Regions from separate parts of the Homo sapiens genome. Here all the other regions are linked to region 1. The links come from fine-mapping of genetic effects on gene expression. A gene starts in region 1. Each other region holds a variant in brackets. All regions are shown on one strand. Distances are from middle to middle. Region 1 holds the start of GLB1 (galactosidase beta 1). Region 2 overlaps CRTAP (cartilage associated protein). Region 3 overlaps GLB1 (galactosidase beta 1).

Region 1 (8,181 bases):
CGTCAGGCAATGTAACTTTAGAGACTCTACTGCTCCCCAGCTCTGTGGCTACTGGCAAGTCATTTAACTCCTCTGGGTCTCAGCTTTCTCATCTGTGAAATGTGGATAAGAGCATGCAGCTCGGATTGGGAGGAATAGTGACACATACTGGTAAAGCATTCAGCACAACAATGGCTATTACTACTATTGCCATTTCAACTACAAACATAGTCAAATACTAAAAATCTCAGAAACAATCTACAATCTATATTCCTTTGGCAAGCTTATACTGTAAAGGGCTAGAACATAAATATATTCAGTTTTGTAGGTCCTAAGATCTGTGTTGCAACTACTCCATTCTACCGTTGTAGCGTGAAAGCAACCATATGCAATATGCAGAGGATTATAGGTGGCTGTGTTCTAAGAAAACTATTTATGTGTAATCTTGGCACTTTGGCAGCCAAAGTGGGCAGATTACTTGAGGCCAGGAGTTCAAGACCAACCCTGGCAACAAGGCAAGATCTTGTCTTTAGAAAAAAAAAAATTATTCAGGCATGGTGGCACTCGCCTGTAGTCCCAGCTACTTAGCTACTCAGGAGGCCGACATGGGACGACTGCTTCAGCTCAGGAGTTCAAGGCTGCTGTGAGCTATGATTGCACCACTGCACTCCAGCCTGGGTGACAGAGCAAGACTGTGTCTAAAAAAACAAAACAAAACAAAAAAAACAAAAACCAACCCCACAAAACTTTATTTATGGACACTGACACAGGAAACTTACAACATTTTCAAATGTCATAAAATATTATTCTTTTGATTTTTTTTCATTCATTTAAAAATGTAAAAACCATTTTTAGGTGGCAGGCCATAGAAAAACTGGCAGCAAATTGTGCCGATTCTTAGTAAAAAGAATTTTAAAAAGAAAAAGAAAAACAGGCAGCAGGCCAGATTTGATCCTCTGCCCTTAGTTTGCCAACTCCTGCTCTAAACCCTTTCTACCTCAGTTCAGTTAAAAATACCTATTGCATATGATAACCCTGAGTGTACAGAGTAGGAAAGAAGGTAGAAGAAGTTGAATCTGCCATGTGTTAAGGATTTTTGTTTTGTTTTGTTTTTAAACTTCGTTCTGCAATAATTTCAGGCTTAGAAACAAAAAGTTGAAAAAAAGAGTAAAAATAATTCCTTCATTGATTTTCCAAATGTTAACATTTTACCACATTTGCTTTTCTTTCTCACGTTCTTTTCATGCCTGGAATACCATTTCTCTCCCTCTCTCTCTCTCTCTTTCTCTCTCTCTCCATTTTTTTTTGTGAACTGTTTGAGAATCAGTTGCAAAGATGATGCCCTTTTGTTTCCTAAAAAACAAGGATGTTCTTTTATATAACCATTACCAAAATTACCATTACCGTTACCCAAATCAATACACTAATACAAAACTATTATTTAATATTTAGACCGTGTACCATTATCAAAATCAGAAAGTTAACATTGATGCGGCCGGGCACAGTGGCTCATGCCTGTAATCCCAGCACTTTGGGAGGCCGAGGTGGGCAAATCACTTGAGGTCAAGAGCTCCAGACCAGCCTGGCTAACATGGTGATACCCCATCTCTACTAAAAATACAAAAATTAGCCAAGCCTAGTGGTGGGTGCCTGTAATCCCAGCTACTTTGGAGGCTGAGGTGGGAGAATCACTTGAACCTGGGAGGCGGAGGTTGCAGTGAGCCGAGATTGTGCCACTGCACTCCAGCCTGGGTGACAGAGTGAGACTCTGTCCCCCCACCCCCCCAAAAAGGAAATTAACATTGATGCATGGTACTAATCTAACCTACAAGTCTAATTCTGATTTCATCAACTGTCCCACTAACATCCTGTATATACCAAGCTTCTTATCGTCATCATCTCTGGTAATTTCCCCAATTATCCAGTGAATTTGATATTATTAGCCCTGCTTTACCAACAAAGAAACTAAGCTCAGAGAGGTTAAGTAATTTGCCCACAGTTACACAGACAGTAAGTGGCAGAGCTGGAATTCCAACTCAAGTGTACTTCCTCCAGAGCCCTTGTTCTTTAATACTGAACTAGAATTGCAGAGCTTGGAAAGGACTTCACAGTGCAAGGACACGGAATTGGTACTACAGGCATGAAAAGAAGCCAGGCACGGTGGCTCATGTCTGTAATTCCAGCATTTTGGGAGTTCCAGGCAGGTAGATTGCTTGATCCCAGAACTTCAAGACCTGCCTGGGAAACGTGGTGAGACCCTGTCTCTACAAAAAATACAAAAATTAGCCGGGTGTGGTGGCGCACGCCTGTAGTCCCAGCCACTTGGTAGGCTGAGACGGGAGAATTGCTTGAGCCCAGGAGGCCAAAGCTGCAGTAAGCCGTGATTGCGCCCCACTCCAGCCTGGGTGACAGAGTGAGACCCTGTCTCAAAAAACACAAAAACAAAACAAAAAAACAACCCCCCAAACCAAAAAACAAAAACCTAAGAAAAGCCAGTAACTGATACTTTCTCAATCTCTCAATGAAATGTCCTTTCTGATACTTTCTCAATCTCTCAAGGACATGTCCGGTAGGAAAGGAGAAAGGAGTGAACAAATAGAATTTTGGCTACTTTGTTATACAATGTAAAAAGGCTTTTTGGAACACCAAGGCATAAACTAAGGTTATTTTAAAAAAGAAAATTTTTTTTTGATACGGAATTTCGCTCTTATTGCCCAGGCTGGAGCGCAATGGCTCGATCTCGGTTTACTGCAACCTCCACCTCCCGGGTTCAAGCGATTCTCCTGTCTCAGCCTCCTCAGTAGCTGGGATTACAGGCGCCTGCCACCACGCCCGGCTAATTTTTGTATTTTTAGTAGAGACGGGGTTTCATCATACTGGTCAGGCTGGTCTGGAACTCCTGACCTCAGGCGATCCGCCCGCCTCGGCCTCCCAAAGTGCTGGGATTACAGGCGTGAGCAGGATTTTCATTCTAACAAGTTCCAGGTGAGTTGATACAGTGGCTCCAGGGACCGACCACATTTTGCTAACCCCCGGCTTAGAGTTATTCAAAGAGCCCGTATATGAGACGCGGATTCCATCTAGGGCGTTTAGGTTTAATGATTAACAATTTCCCTCTTCTGCTCTCTCAAGGCAGCCAGGGAACAGGGAGACCATGATTCATGTCCAATCCCCGAGGCGCGTTATCAAGCTGCTGAAAGCAGGCCCTCCGGACTGCAGTTCCAAAGGGTCCCTTCCCAGGGAAGACGCCTGCAAAACCCAGATAGTACTATCCTGGAGTCACGCGGCGGCGCGCAGCCTCCTAGCCGCCCCCACCCGCCCGGCTCGGCCACAGCGGGGCGGGGCGCGGGGCTGAGCAGGCGCGAGGGCTGGCTGCTGGGCCGACGAGGGGCGGTGCCAGGCCGTGGGTCCTTAGTCAAGTGACGCGAAGCGGCCGGCCTGGGCGCCGACTGCAGAGCCGGGAGGCTGGTGGTCATGCCGGGGTTCCTGGTTCGCATCCTCCCTCTGTTGCTGGTTCTGCTGCTTCTGGGCCCTACGCGCGGCTTGCGCGTAAGTCTGCGGGACCCGGGTACGGGGAGGCATTGCTAGGGGACAGGCTGGCGGGGAACCGGGCTGGGGTCGCAGCCACCCGCGGTCCCGCAGGGCGGGGAGCCTGAGCCCCGAAGTGCCCCCCAGCAGGCTCGCGGCCGGCGGAACGCAGGCAGTGGACCGGCCTTCCCGTCGGGGGCGGGCCGGGCGGGGCGCGCGTCCTTCCAGGCAGCTCGGTCGCTTGTGCGTTCCGCTCCGGCCGCCCTTTGCGCTTGGATCCACTTCCCCATCTGTAACGAGGTGTTGAGACGAGGTGCGTGTAAACATTTCCTAAGTTGGCTTTCCGGGAGGGGATTCCAAGTTGCGCGGGTTAGAGGGTGCCTCCGGCTCTGGTTTGGGGCGCCCTCGCTTTCCCAGTTGGTGCTCTGCGGAGCGCTCCGGAAGGAGAAAAATGGGGTCAGGAGAGGCCCTTGCAGTGGGAACATTGGGTTATTTCCCCTCTGGGTGCTCTCCCTCTTCGTGCATCTTGTTCCTTTCTCACCACTCCCCGTCGCCTGCCCTTTGGCTTGGGTTTTTCTTTGTATTTGTGGGACCGTTTTCCTTCGGCGTTTGGGGGTCCAGGTTGAGGGGGGGAATAGGCAGGCTGCCGGGGGATGCCATCGTTGATCGGGGCAGGGCTGGCGAGGCGAATAGGTGAGGTGCGGGGCGTGCACAGTTGGTGGGAGAGGAAGGACAGCTTCACTCGCTGCGTCCGAGCTGAGGCGACTGGCTGAGGGGCTCCAAAGCGCTGCCTGGGGAGGTTTGCATCACACCTGCGGAAAGGAGAGTGGGTAGTTGCAAGCTGCTCCTCTGCACGTTCCGCGGACCAACTTTGGTTCCTCCAGGGTGTAGGTGGGCTGAGCCTGCAGTATGCTTTAAGTAAGAGCTGGTAGCATTTGACACCGTTGACTTGTAAGTTACACCCTTTAATAACGCTTTCAATAACGTGCCTAGGGCAGAGAAAAGTGGTACATTTATCTACAACCAAGATTGAACATCTTAAGTATTTGGAAAACAGCTGCTGAAAATGTTTTCATTTTGGGAAAAAGTCAGCACAGATTATTTGCTGCTCCCTCTTCACCCCGTCTGTGGTTCCCCTACCCCAGTATGTAGACAGAGTTTTCTTGTCCAGAAGGCCCGTAGGACCTTAGGAGTCAGAGCTAGCCAGCTGTGAGAACCACTGGGGAAGGTGGAACTGGGGCACAGTTCAGGAGAACAGTGGCAGGGTAAGGGGCTAGGGGAAAGGCAGATCTTAACCAGTATCTGGGAGTGGGGGTAGGGAGAGAGAGAAGGATTTATGAACCAGGAACAGGTGGACAGGGTCAATCTGTCTGATGTGAGCTCATCAGTCTTGTGCAGCGTCATTGGGTCAGGGTGGATGCCCTGTGGCTGCCATACCTGAGGCCCACACAGGGAGGCTGGCATCACCCCAGGAATTCTCATTTCAGGTGCCTAGGTGTCCCTCTTGGGCTTCTGTGCCCACAGCTAAAGAAAGATACCAGCAGTCTAGCTTTCCATTATCTCCTTGTTTACATTTCTTTAGGGTTCACGCCATTCTCCTGCCTCAGCCTCCCGAGTAGCTGGGACTACAGGCGCCCGCCATCACACCCGACTAATTTTTTTCTTTTTTTGTATTTTTAGTAGAGACGGGGTTTCACCATGTTAGCCAGGATGGTCTCGATCTCCTGACCTCGTGACCCAGCGGTTCTCAAATTTTAACTAAATTTTAGCTGTCCTAGAAATTAAGAGAATATTCCTTTTTTTTTTTTTTTTTTTTTTTTTGAGACAGAGTCTCGCTCTTTTGCCCAGGCTGGAGTGCAGTGGCACGATCTTGGCTCACTACAACTTCCACCTCCCAGGTTCAAGTGATTCTCCTGCCTCAGCCTCCCGAGTAGCTGGGATTACATGCATCCACCACCATGCCTGGCTAATTTTTGAATTTTTAGTAGAGACAGGGTTTTACCATGTTGGCCAGGCTGGTCTTGAACTCCTGACCTCAGGTAATCTGCCTGCCTCGGCCTCCCAAAGTGCTGGAATTATAGGCGTCAGCCACTGTGCCCAGCCCTAGAGAATATTTTAAACTATTTGTTAAGAAATACTACATCATTACACGTTAATAAACAATATATATATTTGAAAAACAATAGTATTTCTCCCCAAATTTTAGGGTGAAGAGTTGCACTGTTTTACATTTCTGCAAATCTCTTTCAATGTCTCTTAATAGAAGACAGTCAAATTTTCATGTTTATTTCTGCATTAAATCTGTTGCCATATCACATGTCACATAGCCTCTGGAAGACTCCACCCCCTCAGGACAGAGTGAGAATGGAAAAGGCAGTAATGGCTTGGAATTATAATAAAAATAGTTTTGACTAATTGGACCCCTGAAGGGCTCTCTCCAGACCACACTTTGAATACCGCTGATTTGGAATGTTTTTATAAAACAAGTACATGCTTACTGTAGAGAAACTTTAAACGTATAGAACATGTGGTAAGAAAATGAAAACTGCCCATCATGTCACAATGCTGTGAGTTTCTTTTTGAATAATAAAGTATAGCTAGCAACTGACTGGTATTTGAGTAGCTTGGATTCAAGGTGGGTTGGGCAGATGTAAGTGGCCTTTGAGTTTTGAATGGGTACAAGGACACTCTAATATCCCACAAAGCTGATGCTGGTTCCTGGTTGCAGGCGGAGTTGACCTGGAAACCTCTCCTTGGCCACTGTCCTTTCTAAGGAACTCATTTCCAGAGTCCACCAGCACAGAACTGGTGGGGGAGCCTACTAGGAGCAGAGAAAATGGCCATCTTCAGGCAGCTGTCCCTAGGCGCGAAGGCCACCCTGGCTGCTGTCACTGTCTTCGTGTCCATGATCGCCTCCCGCTCGTATCTGGCAGAGAGCCTTGAGCTCAGGGCCTGGCGTTGGCTGCTTCGCTTGCAGCTTGCCCTGTTTGTCAACTCGCTCTTGCTCATTGGCTCCCTCTACATTTGGCGCAGCACAGTGAGCAACCTCTGCCACTCCCCAGCTGCAGAGTCAACCTGTTTTCAGCTTTGGAAGGTGGTGGTTCTGGCATTTCTGGCCCTGGCCCATTCCAGTTTCTTTACCATGTTCTTTTTAGTGGCCGAAGAGCCCTATCTCTTTTCCTTGGCGGCCTACTCCTGCCTGGGTGCTTACATCATCATGCTCTTCTTCCTCTTCATCCTCAGCGGCATGGAGCAGGCCTACCAGCTCTTGGCCTGGCGCAGTGGTAGGGTCGTGGGCAGCCTTGAGAAGACAAGGAAGCTCGTGCTCAGGCCTGCCCTGGCAGTGGGAGTGACTGCTGTGCTCAGCGTGGCCGGGATTCTGAATGCCGCGCAGCCCCCGGCTGTGAAAACTGTGGAGGTGCCCATCCATCAGCTGCCTGCCTCAATGAACAACCTCAAGATCGTGCTCCTCTCAGACATTCACTTGGGCCCCACAGTGGGCAGGACCAAGATGGAAATGTTTGTGAGGATGGTGAATGTGCTGGAACCAGACATCACGGTGATTGTGGGTGACCTCTCCGACTCAGAAGCCTCGGTCCTGCGGACGGCTGTCGCTCCTCTGGGCCAGCTTCATTCACATCTCGGTGCCTACTTCGTCACAGGCAATCATGAGTACTACACGTCAGATGTCAGCAACTGGTTTGCACTTCTGGAATCCCTGCATGTCCAGCCTCTTCATAATGAGAACGTGAAGATTTCCGCCACACGGGCCCAACGTGGTGGTGGTGGCAGTGGCAGTGGGAGTGAGGATGAGGACTGGATCTGCTTGGCTGGGGTGGACGATATTGAAGCAGACATCCTGCACTACTCTGGCCATGGCATGGATCTTGACAAGGCCCTGGAGGGCTGCAGCCCAGACCACACAATCATCTTGCTAGCTCACCAGCCCCTGGCTGCCAAGAGAGCTCTCCAGGCTCGGCCAGATATTAACCTGATCCTTTCTGGGCACACACATGCTGGGCAGATCTTCCCCTTGAACGTAGCAGCCTATCTCCTGAATCCCTTCTTTGCTGGTCTCTACCAGGTGGCCCAGGCTACATTCGTGTATGTCAGCCCAGGCACAGCCTACTACGGGATACCCATGAGGCTGGGTAGCAGGGCCGAGATCACAGAGCTCATCCTGCAGCGGTCTCCCTGAACTGGCCCTGCCCTGTGCACCTCTGCCCTGCCCTTGTCCTCGACCCTCCATCCTGCTTCAGAGTGGTTTGCCTGCTTTTCCCCTCCAGCCTTGCCCACTCATCCTTGCCTACACACCCTTGGTCACAAGCCTGACTCAAACAGTGACTTATGGTGGGCCTGCCTGGCATGTTCAGGCTGGTTTAACTATTTCCTTGGCCAGTTGCTTTTTTTGATGCACTTGTGAGATCACTAAGGTCACATATATTAGCACTCCCCTCTATTTTCCAGATGATGTGGAATGGGGACCTTCTCCTGCAGAGCTCCCAGGGATGAACCTCCCCTCGGGGTTGCTAGAAAGGCATACCTCTAGAAGGTGGGGCGGGGAGGAGCAGGAGCATTTTTCTCCTGGTGTTTTAAAATTGTCTTTAGGACTTAAGTGGTTTCCAGAATCATTGATCCAGAGCCTTTCTGGGGAAGGGGTAGTGTTGCCAGGTA
Region 2 (8,181 bases), 55 kb before region 1:
TAGTTAACATTTGATATTGTCGGTCTGTTTAATTTTAGCCATTCTGGTGCTATGCAGTGGTATCTCATTATGACTATAATTAACATTTCTCTCTTACTAGTGAGGTTGAGCATCTTTCCACATGTTTAATGACTAATCTGATATCTTTCTGGTGATGTCCCAAGTCAACTATCTTGCCAATTTTTCTATGGTTTGTCTGTCTACTTAGTATAGATTTGTGGGAGTCCTTTTTAAATTCTGGATACAAGCCCTTTGGAGGTCATATGTGTTGCAGATAGCTTCTCTAACTCTGCCTTGCATTTTAACTCTCTTTGTGGTAGCTTTTAATGAACAGAGGATCTTCATTTTAATGTAATCCAGTTATCTGTCCTTGTGCCAATACCACAGCCTTAAAAGGTAATGCAGTTTTATAGTAAATCTTGAAATGTTTTGCATATGTCTTCCGGCTTTTTCTTTTTCAATATCGCCTTGTCTATTCTTACATTGCATTTCCATAAACTTCCATCCATTGCATTTCCATAAACTTTAACATTCAGTTAATGTCTGAGATTTTTATTGGAATTGTATTAGATCTGTATAGATCGATTTGGACAGAATTGCCAACTTAATGATCTTGAGCCTTCTACTACATGATCATGGTCTATTCCTCCATTCATTTAAGTCTTCTTTAATTTTGCTTAGCAATGTCTTATATCATTCCATGTAGAAGTCTTGAACATCTTTTGTTAGATTTATTCCTATGTGTTTGGTTTTTTTAATGTTATTGTAAATAGCATCCTTTTAAATTTTAATTTTCTGTTTATTGACAATATTTAGAAATACAATTGATGTTTATATTTACTGTAGACCTAGTATCCCTAATAAACTCACATGTTTTTTGTTGTTGTTGTTTTTGAGTTGTTGTTTTTGTTGTTGTTGTTTTTGAGTCTCACTCTGTCACCCAGGCTGGAGTGCAGTGGTACGATGTTGGCTCACTGCAACGTCCGCCTTCCGGGTTCAAGCGATTCTCATGTCTCATCCTCCTGAGTAGCTGGGATTACAGGCATATGCCACCATGCCTGGCTATTTTTTTGTATTTTATTAGAGATGGGCATTCGCCATGTTGGCCAGGCTGGTCTCGAACTCCTGGCTTCAAGTGATCCACCTGCCTAGGCCTCCCAAAGTGCTGGGATTACAAGTGTGAGCCACCATGCCCGGCCTAAGCTCAGATGTTAAATTTTAGTTACTTGTAATATTCATATGTAGATTATTTGGGTTTATCTATGATACACAGTCATATCATCTGTGAATAATAACAGTATTATTTATTCTGTCCCAGCCTTTATGCTTTTAATTTCCTTTTCTTATGTTCTATACTGGCTCTGTGCCTTTGGAGCTAATGAGGTTTTTTCCCTCTTTTCTTCCAGATGAGGCTGAGGCACACATTGACTATGAAGATAACTTCCCTGATGACAGATCTGTGTCATTCAGAGAGCTCATGGAGGATTCCCGGACAGAGGCAGATGAGGACAGGGGTCAGGGAGACTCCTCTGAGGAGGCTCCAAAACAGGACCGTCTGGTCTCCATTTCTGTGGGGAGAGAAAACATAGCCCGGGATAAAGTCTTTGTGCCAACCACAGGCTTGCCTGGTGCTGGGAGCAGTGTCCCCGCAGATTCACCAGGATCACGGCTGCTCCAGAAGCACTTGTTCTGGTTTCCTGCTGAGGCTTTCCACAAGCCTGGGTTGGAAAAGGAGGTGGATGATGACACCAAAAAGCAGTTTTCTGCTGGAGACAACCACAGTGGTGTAAAATTGGTCCCAGGTGAACCTGAAACCAAGGTGATCTACGGCAACACTGATGGTCCCTCGGGGCCATTTGTGGGCAAGAATGACAGCAAGGCAGGAGATCCAGTGGTGAGCAGCAGTGATGAGTCCTGGTTAGATGGCTACCCTGTGACAGAGGGGGCTTGGAGGAAGACAGAGGCAGAAGAGGAAGAAGATGGGGACAGAGGGGATGGGTCAGTAGGGCTGGATGAAAACGTCCTAGTTACTCCTGATCAGCCCATTCTTGTGGAAGTTAAGAAGCCCAAGAGTAGCACCCTCACACCAAGCGAGGGCATGACCCATAGTTCAGTTCTTCCATCTCAAATGCTAGATGTGGAAGCTTTGGCGCTCAGACCCGTGAATGCTTCCGAGACTGAGGGCATTGGGGATGGTGACTTGACGAAGTACCAGTCAACTCTACCCTGGAGATTCATCACAGAGGAATCTCCCATGGCCACCCTGTCCTATGAGCTCACCAGCTCCACCCTGGAGATATTAACAGTGAACACTGTCAAGCAGACACCTAACCACATCCCCTCAACGATCATGGCAACCACCCAGCCTCCAGTAGAAACCACTGTTCCTGAGATCCAGGATAGCTTCCCATACCTGCTGTCTGAAGACTTCTTTGGACAGGAAGGCCCCGGGCCAGGTGCAAGTGAGGAGCTTCATCCCACCTTGGAGTCGTGTGTGGGGGACGGATGTCCTGGCCTCAGCAGAGGCCCTGTGATCGCCACCATTGTCACCGTCCTGTGCCTACTGCTGCTCCTGGCAGGTGTGGGGATGGTGTGGGGCTACCGCAAGTGCCAGCACAAGAGCTCTGTGTACAAGCTGAATGTTGGCCAGCGGCAGGCTCGGCACTACCACCAGCAGATCGAGATGGAGAAGGTCTAGGCACCTTTGGAGTGGGTTCTCCCAAAGCCACTTGGGAGGAAAATAACTGTGACACATCACACGATAATTCACTAGAGCATGACGCAGGTGGACTGAGGCTCATCATTTTTTCCTCAGCCCTTTGTTTTATAGGCTGAGAAGTGTCTCTGGAGCACCTGGGAGGGCAGGGAGGCTTTGGTGACATCATCACTCATGTCAATGTCTCCTCCACCATCTGCCCTGGAATTGACTACACTAATCCCAGACCTGTGCTTGGGCCCTGTTTCCAGTGTGAGGTCAAAAATCGCCTCTTCCTTCATCACAGTATTATCTTTTTTTTTTTGAGACAGAGTCTCATGCTGTTGCCCAGGCTGGAGTGCAGTGTCCCGATCTGAGCTCACTGCAACCTCTGCCTCCCAAGTTCAAGCAATTCTCCTGCCTCAGCCTCCCAAGTAGGTGGGATTACAGGCATGCACCACCATGCCCAGCTAATTTTTTTATATTTTTAGTAGAGATGGAGTTTCACCATGTTGGCCAGGCTGGTCAAGAACTCCTGACCTCAAGTGATCTGCCCTCCTTAGCCTCCCAAAGTGCTAGGATTCCAGGTGTGAGCCACATCACAGTATTACCTTTTTGAAGAAAGAAAATCACCAGCTTCATGCCCTGAAATTTTATAAATAGTCATGATAAACCAAGTGTATGAGAGCAGTATTATCTAGGACATGGATATTGAATTATTGGGAGAGGAATATGGAAGAATAATGGGTTGTTTCCTTTTAATGTTGTGATGTTGCTGAGGGCAGATGAACCAAGAGCCAGGACACAGTCTAGAAGCTTTGAGGTTTCTTTTTTCATTGTTTCTTGAAATTAGAATTTAAGACTGACATTTTGTTGGGGGAGTTGAGGAGTGAAGAAACACACATCCCCCTCTGTTCCCTCCATTCTGTGGGACAGTCTGTCATTTATTTTATTTTATTTTCAATATTTCATGGTTAAGGATTTGCCATTATTTTTTAAAAACAAAGTTAGCTTTGTACCAGTAAGTACCATTTCCTCTCAGAAGCAGTGGCCTAGTTGTCCTTGACCAGTCTGTGCCTAGGAATGTCTTGGAATTTTTGCCAGGACTAACAAAACTCAGTCCTTGGTTTCCTCTCTCAGGATTAACCATTTCTCTGAACTCCAGTAAGAGAGAATGACACGGGAGAAAAAAAAAAGAAATGTTTTCAGAGGGCCGAACACCAGGTTATCAAGTATGGGCACATACTTGATGGAGAAGCAGAAGAATCTGTGAAAGAATATGAAATGATCTGTGCTGATCTGTTCTCTAGTGTGGAAACTGGGAGCTCTGTGGAAACAGAATCCATCCTGTCTGTTGGGTAACCCATTTCGTAGCATCTAAATCATCTTAGG[G/A]TGGCTCAGCGAGGATGGTTTATGGCAGTGGTTCTCAAAGTGTGGTCCTCAGACCAGTAGCATCAGCGTCACCTGGGAATTTGTTGGAGATGCAAATTCTCTAGTCCCACCCTGGACTCAGGAAACAGGAACCCTGGGAGTAGGGCCCAGTTCTGTTTTTAACAAGCCCTCCAGGTGATTTTGATATGCACTCAAGTTTGAGAGCCTGTTGGTTTATAATAATCTCAAATGTGAACTTCGAGGCCAGCTGAAGCCCTAAAGGCACAGATGAGTATGTGGTGTGTGTTGTGTGGAAGTCAGGCATGGCTGTGTGCAGCTGAGGTGGCATTTGAAGCTGCCTAAATGCCACCTGCAATAGTCTCCTGTATGTTGGCACAGAAATGAAACATGTTATATTTTTCTAATATGAATCACCTTCTTAGAAATAGTTATCAGTGGTAAAAAGTGATGAATGCAACACATTTATTTTGAGACACCATAGCAGTCTAAGTGTTTTTGTGTGGTAGAGGGAAATCCTGATCTTTTTTATGATTGAAAAATTGTTGGTGGTGTTTTACCTAAGGAAAAAAAACATTCGCAACATGTTTTCTACCCTGCCACCTCTTTTCAGCAAGCTTTGGAAAAGTAATAGGCGAAGTAGCTGTAAAGAGAGGCAGCATAATCAAAGATCTTATTCCCCATAGTTGGGTAAAATAAAGCCTGAAGGTACCAACTAGAATACCTGTGCATCAGACGAAGTCAAGAACAATAGGAATAAAATGCTTTCTGCATGTAGCCAAAGCAAAACATAATAGAATAAAAGCCAGAGACTGTATATATTTATAAATTAGATCCTAATCTACTGCAAGATAACTTTTCTATTTTTAACTATATAAAATAACCTCTGTCTCAGCATTGGGACTGTGTTAGCAACTATTATTGTGGAATAACCCAGAACATTGGATTTATACCAACAAATAGGCAATATTAATACAGTGTATTAATAAATTTATTACAAATTATTAATACAGTGTATTAATAAATTTATTACAAATTATTAATACAGGTAAATGTTTTATTTGTAGACATGGACTGTGAAATAAACCCAACACATCAGTTTTTAAGTTCTTATTGGTGTGGTATCCTCTAAATTAATGTTATAGAATCTAAAAATTCATGTTGAAAGGGAATGATTAAAACAATGTAAATCTAAATTGTATGTCATGCATGTTTTGAGAATGGTGAATGTTTAATGCTCATGAAAATTGGGGGAGGGGGTTCTATTAACACAAAGCTTCTGAGATATTTAAAATAAATAATTATTGCCCCAACAGTTGCTGAATGTATTTTATTTCTAGGCTACTGCACCAAGGTTTAAAAAAAGAAAAAAATTCTCGCTGGGCACAGTGGCTCACACTGGTAATCCCAGCACTTTGGGAGGCTGAGGTAGGCAGATCACTTGAGGTCATGAGTTCGAGACCAGCCTGGCCAACATGGTGAAATCTTTTCTGTACTAAAAATACAAAAATTAGCCGGGCGTGATAGCATGCTTGTGGTACCAGCTACCCAGGAGGATCAGGCAGGAGAATTGCTTGAACCCGGGAGGCAGAGGTTGCAGTGAGCTGAGATCATGCCACTGCACTCCAGCGTGGGGGACAGAGCAAGGCTCCATTCAAAAAAAAAATCTCTAGTAATCTTGAAAATAATGTCTTAATACTTGCTATATCTAAGATCTAAGACTGCCCTTTCTAAACCTAACTCTCAGTTATGTTACCTCCTGCAGCAGGATTTTAGGGAAGTTGGTGGCACTCTTGCCCCCCCCTCCCTCCCTACTTCCCTCTTCCTTGCCCCGCCCCCCCCTACTTCCCTCTTCCTTGCCCCAACCAGAGACCACTTACTTCACTGCAACGAAACACCCGGGACCTCGCTATTCAAAGTGTGGCTCCTGCCCCAGCAGCACAGGCACTGCGAGCTTGTTAGAAGTACAGAATCTCAGGCCCTGCCCCAGGACTGCTGAATCAGGATCTGCATCTAACAGGATGCCCAGGTGGTGGGCATGAATGGTAAAGCTTGAGAAGCACTGGCCTAAGAGAGAACTGATTATCCCCTTTCTCCTAACTCACAGGACACTCAAAGGAGTAATTAGAGGGTTAGCTGAAGGGACTGTTCACAAAGGTGTGGGGAAAGTTAGGGGAACCATCAGGGGATGGTGGGGACCTGTTATGGAACCCAACAAGAGCTCAGTAATAGGAAAGGCCCTGCAGGACAAGGGCTCTGGCCTCAAAGAGAATGCAGCCAGTGTCCAACTGTGGCCTGGAGGAAGCAAAGATTTTAAGGAACCAGACCTTGTCTCACCCTGCCATCTCTTGTTGGCATGTCCCAGTGGCAACTGGAAATCAGAGGGTGAAGAAGCCCAGGCAATGGAACCATAGAGGTCAGGCTTCTGGGACACCGGGCATGTTGGAGGGGCATGTTGGAAGAGATACGGAAGGGCAGCTAGCAAATCCAGCTCAGACGCCATCAGCACCAATCCCATCTGCCTTATGTCCATTTTTACATCCATGACCACCACAGATCCATGCCTCCCAAGCCTTCCAATGTTGTGGACATTGTTGATGCCCCTCCCAGGTCCCCTTTGCTAGGTAGGTGAACCTGTCTTCCAGCTGCCCTGAGTGTTGGCTGTTAAAATGCTCATAAGCACGTAAGTGTACCCTTCCAACGCAGAGAATTGCCCTTGGCCTATTGAGAGTTCCCTCACCCAGGAAGTTAGACCACGGTATACTCTGCTAGGGCAGCCTATAACCAATGACCAGCTGTCATGGGAATGCAAAAGGCTGGCCTCCTTTCCTCAAGGTGGGACCAACTCCGATATGATTCATGCTCCAGAGCTCCCATGAGATCAAGCTGAAGTCAGTCTCCAACTGAAGACACATCCTTACTGGCTCCTTCCTGCTTCTCTCACACCCCTTCTCTTGAGAGCACCCCATCACTTCCCTTGCTTCAAAGGATCCTGACCTAAGACATCCATCAACACTCAACTCTTACTCCCTACACCTCCTCTCCTCAGTCCAGATTTTTTCACCATAACCTCTGGAATTCTTGGGCTGACCTCCATGTCCTCCACCTCTTCTTCAGACAGCTGTTTCAACTCTCCATAACGTGGACTTCTTTTTGTGCTGGCTGGTTCCTCACTCTTTCCACCTGCTTCCTTCTACTCTTCTTTCTCCTGCCTGCCCTTTAGTGGCATGCATGGAGCATAGTTGCTGTTGACAGTCATGCCTGAAGATGCTTTGTGTCCCTGTTTGAAACAGATTCCAAATGTTTTTCCTAGTGGGATTCCAGATCTCCTCTGAAAGACAATCTTCCGGGGGAGAGGCATGAGCCTCTACTGCCTGACAGGACCTCAGCCAGCTCTTGGCTCATGGAGAGCAAGGACCACTCCTCTTGCATGAGATCCAGGAGTCCCTGGCTTGAAGTTTCTACTTTGTTAGATGAATGTCAGAAATTTCACAGACCTGAGAAAACAGAGCTCATTACAACATAGCTTCTAGAATGTGGTGAAGACATCCCTGTCCAGTGGATAGAATAGAAAATAGAGAATAAGCAATGTAAAACATTTAATGTGATTTAAAAAGAAAAACAAAAACCTTTTGTTTTCAACTATTTTCTAATTTTCAACAAGAGTGAGCTTGTACATACCACACTAACCCAAAGAGGGGAGGCAGAAAAAGACATCAGCAACGGTCTTTGGAGTTTGGCCTACTGGCTGCCACCCTAAAGTGGGAGATAAAACTCTGGAATCTATCTTGTATCTGTTGGCCAAATTGCTTAATTCCTTCCTATTCTCTTCTTGTAAAATGAGGCACTAATATCTTACCGGCCAGCTCCAAGGGGATATAGAGCCAACTCACTCATTCATTCAACAAGCAACGAAAGCCAGCTATTTGTGTGGGGACAGTGTCAGGTGCAAGGATATGTGGCTGTTCACGAGCCGGCCCTAGACGGAAAACACTCTAAGGATAACAATAGCTGCTCTTGATTCTTATTTCTGGGGTAGCAGTGGGTCAGTCAAGGCAAAGCCGGGCTGTCATGGTGTCCTCTTTCAGGGAGATGTC
Region 3 (8,181 bases), 56 kb after region 1:
TGTTTTTTTGATTTCTAGTCTTTTTGCATTCTGGTTAGAGAATATAGTCTGTGATACCAATCCCTTGAAAGCTGCTGAGCCTAGTCTTAGAGCCTGACATACACCAATATTAATGGTCAATGTGCGCATAAAAAGAAAGTATATTTTACAGTTGTTGACTATATTCTACATACATGTTCATCAGATTAAGTTTATTAATGGTGCCATTGATATCTTTGATCTGCTTCCTAATTTTTTGTCAGTTCAGTCTACTATTTAGTGAGAGTTGTCCTCATGTATTTCCCTTTGTAGCTCTGCCAGTTCTGAGGTTATGTTATTAGGTGGGCAAATTGAGAATTACATCCTTCAGTACTTAATAGTAAAGGGATTATATAACCCTCTATTTCTAATAAGGCTTTTTGCCTGGAAGCCTTTTTTTTTTTTTTTTTTCTTTTTTTGGTCTGTTATTCATTAACACCATTTACCTGCATACTTTTGCTTGGTATTTTTCTGAGGTATCTTTCCCAATGCTGTAATTTCATCCTTTTTATATCCTTTGTTCTGTTTACATGTGTCCCTTATAAACAGGATATAATCGAATTTTTAAAATATCTAGTTTGAAATTTCTTGTCTTTTAACTGATATATTTATACATTCTCATTCATTGTACTTCTTGATATACATAGATGAATTTCAATTATCTTATTTTATAATTTCTATTCGTTTACCTTTTTGGCTCTTTCTTTCCCTTTATTGCTTTCTTTTAGATTGAGGTTTTTTGTTTTGTTTTGTTTTTTCCTCTTATTTCTTTCCCCCCTCTTCTACTTTGGAAGTTATTCACTGCATTCTAATTTTTTTAGTGGTTACCATTTAAGTGTGACATCTATACCCCCAGAAAAGAACAACTCGTAGTACACAGCTCAGTGAATTTAGGCAACGGGAGCGCAGCCCTGTGACAAACACATAGCTCCCCGGAAGCCCCTCTAATGTCCCTCTCTAGTCATTGACACACATACCCATTCCTGAGCTCACAGCTGTCCTCACCTCTATCACCAGAGATTCATTTTGCTCGTTTTTAGGCAGCAAGTTCCTACAATATACACTCCTGTGTCTGGCTGTCTTGTAATAGTTTAAAATTAATCAATATCTTTACTTTCTCCATATTGCATCCCTCTTTAACTTACTGTAACTCCAATTACAGCCCTCTTGATTTGTATGTTATTATTGTCATGTATTTTAATTCTCTGGGTTTAGTTTTCATGTATTTTAGTTCTCTCCTTAAAAAATAAAACCCATGGGGCATTACTACAATGGCTTCAGATAGTATTTCACTTGACCCACATAGTTCATTTATTGGCAAATGATTTAACAAACATTCATCAAGTACTCTGCATGCGCCAGGTTGCAGTTTTAGGTGCTTGGTGGCTGTAGGCTTTCCTGAAAAGGTGGAGCTCAAACAAAAATTTTAAGGTGGTGAGAGAGCCATGTGGCATATCTCCGCCTGGACAAGAGCATTCCAGGCAGAATGCAGCCAGTGAGAACTTGGGAAGGTATATGGCATTTTTAAAGACTAGCAAGGAGGCCAGTGTGGCTGGAGCCCAGTAAATGAAGGGGTAAGAAGTAGGAGAGGCTGTGCGCGGTGGCTCACGCCTGTAATCCAAGCGCTTTGGGAGGCCGAGGCGGGCGGATCACGAGGTCAGGAGATCGAGACCATCCTGGCTAACACAGTGAAACCCCGTCTCTACTAAAAAGACAAAAAATTAGCCGGGCATAGTGGCGGGCGCCTGTAGTCCCAGCTACTCCGGAGGCTGAGGCAGAAGAATGGCGTGAACCCGGGAGGTGGAGCTTGCAGTGAGCCGAGATCACGCCACTGCACTCCAGCCTGGGCGACAGAGCGAGACTTGGAAAAAAAAAAAAAAAAAAAGGAGGAGATGAGGGGTCAGGGATATAGATGGGGAACAGATCACATGGAGCATTACAGGCCATTATAAGACTTTGGCTTTTACTCTGAATGTAATGGGAATCCATTGAGGAGTTGAGCAGAGCCGTTGTTAAAGCATTCTATTAAAGCAGATTCCAGCTGCTGTGTTGAGATTAGACCCTGGGAGGTGCGGCAAGGGTAGAGTAGGAAGACCAGTTAGAAAGTTTTTGCAGCCATCTCAGTGAGAGGTGATTGTGGCTTATGAAGGTAGTAGGAACTAGGCAGTTTCAGAATATATTATGAAACTAGTGCTAATATAATTTTCAGATGGGGAGTATGAAAGAGAGGAGAGTCGGGTGACTCTAAAGTGTTTTAAATGGCAACTTGAAGGACAGAGTTACCATTTATGTGGGGGGAAGATCAGGAGTTCAGTTTTGGCTGTGCAAAGTTAGACTTGTCTAGTATATGTACTAGTGGAGATGTAGAGTAGGCAGTGGATATATGAATGCACAGCTTGAGACAAAGGTCTGGTACCTTTGTCCCAGGACCACACTTTTCTTTATCTTCTATTGCTTCTTCTGCCTGAAGTATATTCTTTAGAATTTCATTTAGTAAGCAAGTTATATTAATTCTTCTTTGTCTGAAAATTTTTTTTTCACCCTCATTTTCAAAATGCAGTTTTTCTTTTCTTTCTTTCTTTTTTTTTTTTTTTGAAGACAGGGTCTCACTCTGTTGTCCAGAATGAGTGCAGTGGTGAGATCTTGGCTCACTGCAACCTCTGCCTCCCAGCTTCAAGCGATTCTCCTGCCTCAGCCTCCCAAGCAGCTGGGATTACAGGCGTGCATCACCACACCTGGCTAATTTTTGTATTTTTAGTAGAGATGGGGTTTCACCATGTTGACCAGGCTGGTCTTGAACTTCTGACCTCAGATGATCCATCTGCCTCAGCCTCCCGAAGTGCTGGGATTACAGGTGTGAGCCACCATGCCCGGCCTCAAATTGTAGTTTTTCTAAACTGATAGTTTTCTCTCAGCATACTGACTTTGGGCTTTTATTGTTGCTGCTGAGAAGTCAGTTTACTGTACTCTGTCACTCTCTTGAAGATAATCTATCTTTCCTCTTGGACAGCTTCTGAGATTTTCTCTTTATATTTGACGCTGTATAGTTTCTCTGTGATGAATCTAAGTGTGACTTTCTTTTCGTTTATCCTGCTTGGTAGTTTTGGAACTTGTGGCTTGGTATCTTTTTTCACTAGTCCTAAAAAGTTTATGCCATTATGTCTTCAAATATTT[A/G]TTTCTATTAGATAATTTGTTAGACCTTCTGATTCTAGCCTTCACAGCTCGTAATCTCTTTTTCTCTGTGCAGCATTCTGATTGTCTTGAAATATGTTCTTCAATTGTTGCTTTCTCTTTAGTAGCTATAAATTCTAAGATTAAAACCTTTCCATTGAATTATTAAATTATATTTTTCATTCTATAAGTTCACATTAGCAGTTCGAATTTTACTCAGCCATTTTTAAATTCTCTTGCTTTTTCCTTATGTATACATGTTCTTCTTTTATTTCTTTAAACATACTAGAGATACTTCTGTTATATATCTCTATTTGATCATTTCAGTATGCAGAGTCTTTCTTTGTCTCATTCTGCCTTTTGTTGTTTCTGTGACCTCTTGTTCATGGTGTCTTGTTTCTGCGTGTGTGTTGTGATTTTGACTGAGCTGAATTTCTTGGAACTTTTTGTTGTTGTTGTTGTTGTCATTGTTCTTAGAGACAGGGTTTCACTCTCGCCCAGGCTGAGTGCAGTGGTGCAGTCCTGGCTCACTGCAGCCTCAACCTCCCGGGCTCAAGTGATTCTCCTGCCACAGCCTCCTGAGGAGCTGGGACTACAGGCATGTGCCACCATGCCTAGCTAATTTATTTTTTATTTTTTTTTTGTAGAGCCAGGGTCTCACTATGTTGCCTAGGCTGGTATTGAACTCCTGGGCTCACTCATGGAACTTTTATCTTTAGGAATTATTTGAGATTTGGGGTGAATGTGGGTTCTTCCAGAGAGAATTAGCATTTGCTTCTGGCAGGTACCAGGGAACATTACGCCTTAAATTAAAATCTTAAATTGAGGGATTTTTTTTGTACTACAGAAGCAGTGTGAATTTTAGCTACAAAATATATCAGAGGGCTGACTGTGCATATGAATTTTCAAAGGAGATTTATTTTCTCCCTACCTATTGCCATGTAACAAAGTACCCCTAAACCTAGTAGCTCAACATAACAAATATTTATTATATCACAGTTTCTGAGGGTAAAGGATCTAGGAACAGCTTAGATAGATGTTATGTCTAAGCTACTCCTAGGGCTATTTTTTTATTTCTATCAGTTTATGCAGTCTTAAAAATCAGCATTTTCAAAATACCATTCCATATTTGTATGTATGACCTCCATCATTTCTTTTGAAAAATCACCTGTCACTGGTTTTCCTTTGATGGTATAGGTCTTTTTTTCTCTAGTGCTTTTAAGATTTCCTTTTCATCTTTGATTTTTAGGAATTTTCCTATGGTATGCCTATGCATAGTTTTCTTTATATACATCTTGTTTGAGGGTGTTTGAACTTCCTAAATCTATGGCATTATTTCTTTTGTGGATTTTAGAACATTCTTGGCTGTTATCTCATCCAATGTTATGTTTACTTCGTTCTCCCACCTTGCCTTTCAGAACACCAGTGATATGTGTGTTAGACGTTTTTTCCTGTGTTCTGTGTATCTCCTAAGCGCTTCCATTGTTTCTATCCTTTCCCCCGAACATATTTTAGTTTAGATTTTATTCTGACCTATCTTCTAGTTTATTAATCCTCTTTTCAACTGTCTGAGTGAAACCCATATTATAGACTCAATTTCAATGATTGCATTTGTCAGTTCTAGAGCTTCCATTAGATTTTAAAAATTGTTTCCAGTTCTCTGCTGAAATTCCTCATCTTCTTTTGTTGTATGTCTATTGGCATAATTTTAAGCTTTCTTCAGATTATTCCAATACCATGATGTCTTATGGGTCTGTTTCAATGGCTTTTTTTTCCTTTTTTTTTTTTTTTTTTTGAGACAGAGTCTTGCTCTGTTGCCCAGGCTGGAGTGCAGTGGTGTGATCTCAGCTCACCGCAACCTCCACCTCCTGGGTTTAAGTGATTCTCCTGCCTCAGCCTCCTGAGTAGCTGGGATTACAGCTGTGCACCACCACACCTGGCTGATTTTCATAGTTTTAGTAGAGATGGGGATTCACCATGTTGGTCAGGCTGGTCTTGAACTCCTGACCTCATGATCTGCCCACTTCGGCCTCCCAAAGTGCTGGGCTTAGAGGTATGAGCCACTACGCCCGGCCCTGGCTTTTTTTTCTATTCGTTTTTGATCAGATAGTGTTGTCTCCTATATGTTGGGTTTTTTCTCATCTAGAGGTCAATAAAACAAAAAAGAAAGAGATAATTTGGGTTATATATGTTTTTTCTTCCAAAAGAGATTTACTTTTACTTCTACCAGGCAGTTAGAGTAGACAGAGATCATCTTCATGCAATCAGGGATTAAGCTAATTTGAAAGTGGGCTTCTGTCTTCTTGAGGGTTGGTCCGCTTCTGGTTCACTTTCTTAGGGGTCTCAACTGAGAGCTTGAAGTATTTACCAGGGTTCTTTCTCCGTTCTGATCTCTGAAGTCCAATTTTTATCTTCTCAGCCCTAGAAGACTCCCAGAAGTTGTGTTCGGCTTCTAGCCTCTCAGTTGGCCCTTGTGAATTGACAAATACCTTGATGGGAAAACTAGTAACAAATATCAGACTTGCATCATGACATTTTCCATTTTTTTGGAATTGTAACCACTTAATTCCTTTCTGCTTTGGTAGCTTTCTGATGCTTTCAAAAAGATATTTTAAAACATCTTGTACAATTGTTCTAGATGTTTTCCACAGCAAGATTTGTCAACAAAAACCTAGTTTCAGAGATTTACTTACTCCCTAAGAGATTCTCCAGAATTTGCTATACACAAAGGTGTTAACCTTCAGAGCACAGGGCAAACCTTTCACAAATTATTTTTCTGAGATCTGTCGATCATCCACTTAATCATTATACAAACATTCAACACCAGTCTTACAATTTCCGTGTTAAATGCTAGAGGTGAGTGATAAGTCTACCATGGTCCTGTGTTGGAGGGGCTCACAGAAGAGATAAATTTGAATTTTTCTCTTTAAGCATCCCTCTTACTCCAGAGTTTCTCCAAATAGAATGAAATCATCTTTAAGCAAGTTTTAAAGATATGGCAGATATGCAATTTGTTACCTCTCTCACCAATCTGAGCCTTTTTTTTTTTTTTTTTTTTTTTTTTTGAAGAGTCGCCCAGTATTGTGTGAGAGGTAGAGTCACAGATTGGAGAAGCTTTGGAGAGAGACAGAACAAAACTTGAGTGTTGACTCCAGTACTCAGTGGGCAAGGTACCCTCCTTCCACATCTGTGCAATACGGTTAGCATGTCTTCTCAGAGAATAATACATAGCAGTTATTTTTATTACTGTTTTTCTTCACTTATGTCATTGTAAAATTTCAAACTAGAGTTAAATATTCCCCTGGAAACTTGTGCCCACTTATGCTCAAAGCCTCTGTTGACAGTGCCCTTTAGTAGCTGCAGTAATCACCATTGCTCAATTGCTCCCAAGAAAATCAAGGAGGAAGTATTATTCTGCCATTCTATTAGTTTTTATGTGGTGTCCAGACCCAAAGGGTATCCTGTTACAGAGAGTGTGACATGAGCACTGTAGTTTTTTCTAGGTAAGAGTTACTGTTCCATGTTTAGTTTGGGTGTCTTCTATCAGCCAGGACTACTGATTTACTTGATTTGATTATAATGCCTGTGGACTTGTTTCTTTTATAGACTATTGCTTCATTTCACAATCCACTTCAGGTTTATTTATTTTCTAAACAGATTTGTTGAGGTATAATTCACATACATTTCTCCCATTCAAAGTACACCATTCAATGTTTTTTGTTATATTATTAATTTTTTAGGCCAGGTGTGGTGGCTCATACCTGTAATCCCAGCACTTTGGGAGGCCGAGGCAGGCAGATCACCTAAGGTCAGGAGTTCGAGACCAGCCTGGCCAAAATGGTGAAATCCCATCTCCACTAAAAATACAAAAATTAGGCTGGCATGGTGGCGCACACCTGTAATTCCAGCTACTCGGGAGACTGGGGCAGGAGAATCGCTTGAATATGGGAGTCAGAGGTTGCAGTGACCTGAGATCACACCACTGCACTCCAGCATGGGTGACAGAGCAAGACTCTGTCTCAAAAAAAAAAAAAAATTAATTGTGGTAAAATATATATAAAACAAAATTTGCCATTTTAACCATATTTAAATGTAAATTCAGTGCCATTAGTTATATTCACAATGTTATACAGCCATCACCATTATCTATTTTCAAAACTTTTTCTTCCTTCCAGACAGAAACTCTGTAACCATGAAGCAATAGCTCCCCAGTCACCCTCTCCTCAGCTTCTAGTAGCTCCTAGTCTACTTTCTGTCTCTGTGAATTTGCCTATTCTAGATATTTCATATAAGTGGCATCATAAAATATTGGTCCTTTTGTATCTGGCTTATTTCACTTAGCACAATGTTTTCAACGTTGTAACGTGTCAGAATTTCATTTCTTTTTATGGCTTAATATTCCATTGTATGCGTATATGATATTTTAATTACCTATTCATTTTGTTCATCTGGTGATGACCATTTCAGTTGTTTCCATCTTTTGGCTATTTGAATAATGCTGCATTGAACATCAGAGTACAAATATCAATATGGATAAGTCTCTGCTTGTCATTCCTCTAGGGACATACCTAGAAGTGGAGTTGCTGGTAGGCTTATTTTTAGAATTATTTTCTTTCTGAAATAGTGAACTTTCCTAATGTGGAAAAAATCAAATCAAGTTTTAAAACACATATTTACATAAGCTTTATTGCATAAAATATCACTTTACTTTTGGCCTCATTATAACAGCACATTTTTATTCTCTCATACTTCTAGCTACTTCTTCCTGCCATCCCCTATCCCTGAAACTCCACACACTTTTCTTGACCTTCCCTTGCTCTTCTGATCGATGGCTGGGATAATCTTACACCATCACCCTCAATCCTTCTGTATGCAGCTGTTTAAGAGGCCCTGCTCTATGAACCACTGCTGGGACCATTCTGACTGTCACACTCTGGAACCAGAGCCAGGCAGAAGAATTTTAAACTTCAGTATTGACTGGCCAGGAAGGGA

What was found.
Region 2: its variant is fine-mapped to the expression of GLB1 in whole blood (TOPMed, PIP above 0.99).
Region 3: its variant is fine-mapped to the expression of GLB1 in whole blood (INTERVAL, PIP 0.91).

What each region holds. Positions count from the first base shown.
Region 1 is chr3:33,092,358-33,100,538 of GRCh38, reverse strand. GLB1 (galactosidase beta 1) reads left to right here and starts at 3,393. Exons shown (of 16, transcript NM_000404.4): 1 at 3,393-3,528. The coding sequence starts at 3,454. It overlaps TMPPE (transmembrane protein with metallophosphoesterase domain), which reads left to right and starts at 3,393. Exons shown (of 2, transcript NM_001039770.3): 1 at 3,393-3,820; 2 at 6,236-8,181. The coding sequence starts at 6,344. The coding sequence ends at 7,705. RefSeq lists a silencer at 3,196-3,805.
Region 2 is chr3:33,147,259-33,155,439 of GRCh38, reverse strand. It overlaps CRTAP (cartilage associated protein), which reads right to left. Exons shown (of 7, transcript NM_006371.5): 7 at 7,667-8,181. It overlaps SUSD5 (sushi domain containing 5), which reads left to right. Exons shown (of 5, transcript NM_015551.2): 5 at 1,407-5,397. The coding sequence ends at 2,698. Among named protein-coding and RNA genes, the nearest start is that of CRTAP, 37 kb to the right of the region's middle. RefSeq lists an enhancer at 1,426-2,625. The variant G/A (reference allele first, on the strand shown) is at 4,088.
Region 3 is chr3:33,036,093-33,044,273 of GRCh38, reverse strand. The region is part of intron 10 of GLB1 (galactosidase beta 1); the gene reads left to right. Among named protein-coding and RNA genes, the nearest start is that of GLB1, 57 kb to the left of the region's middle. RefSeq lists an enhancer at 7,628-8,181. The variant A/G (reference allele first, on the strand shown) is at 3,193.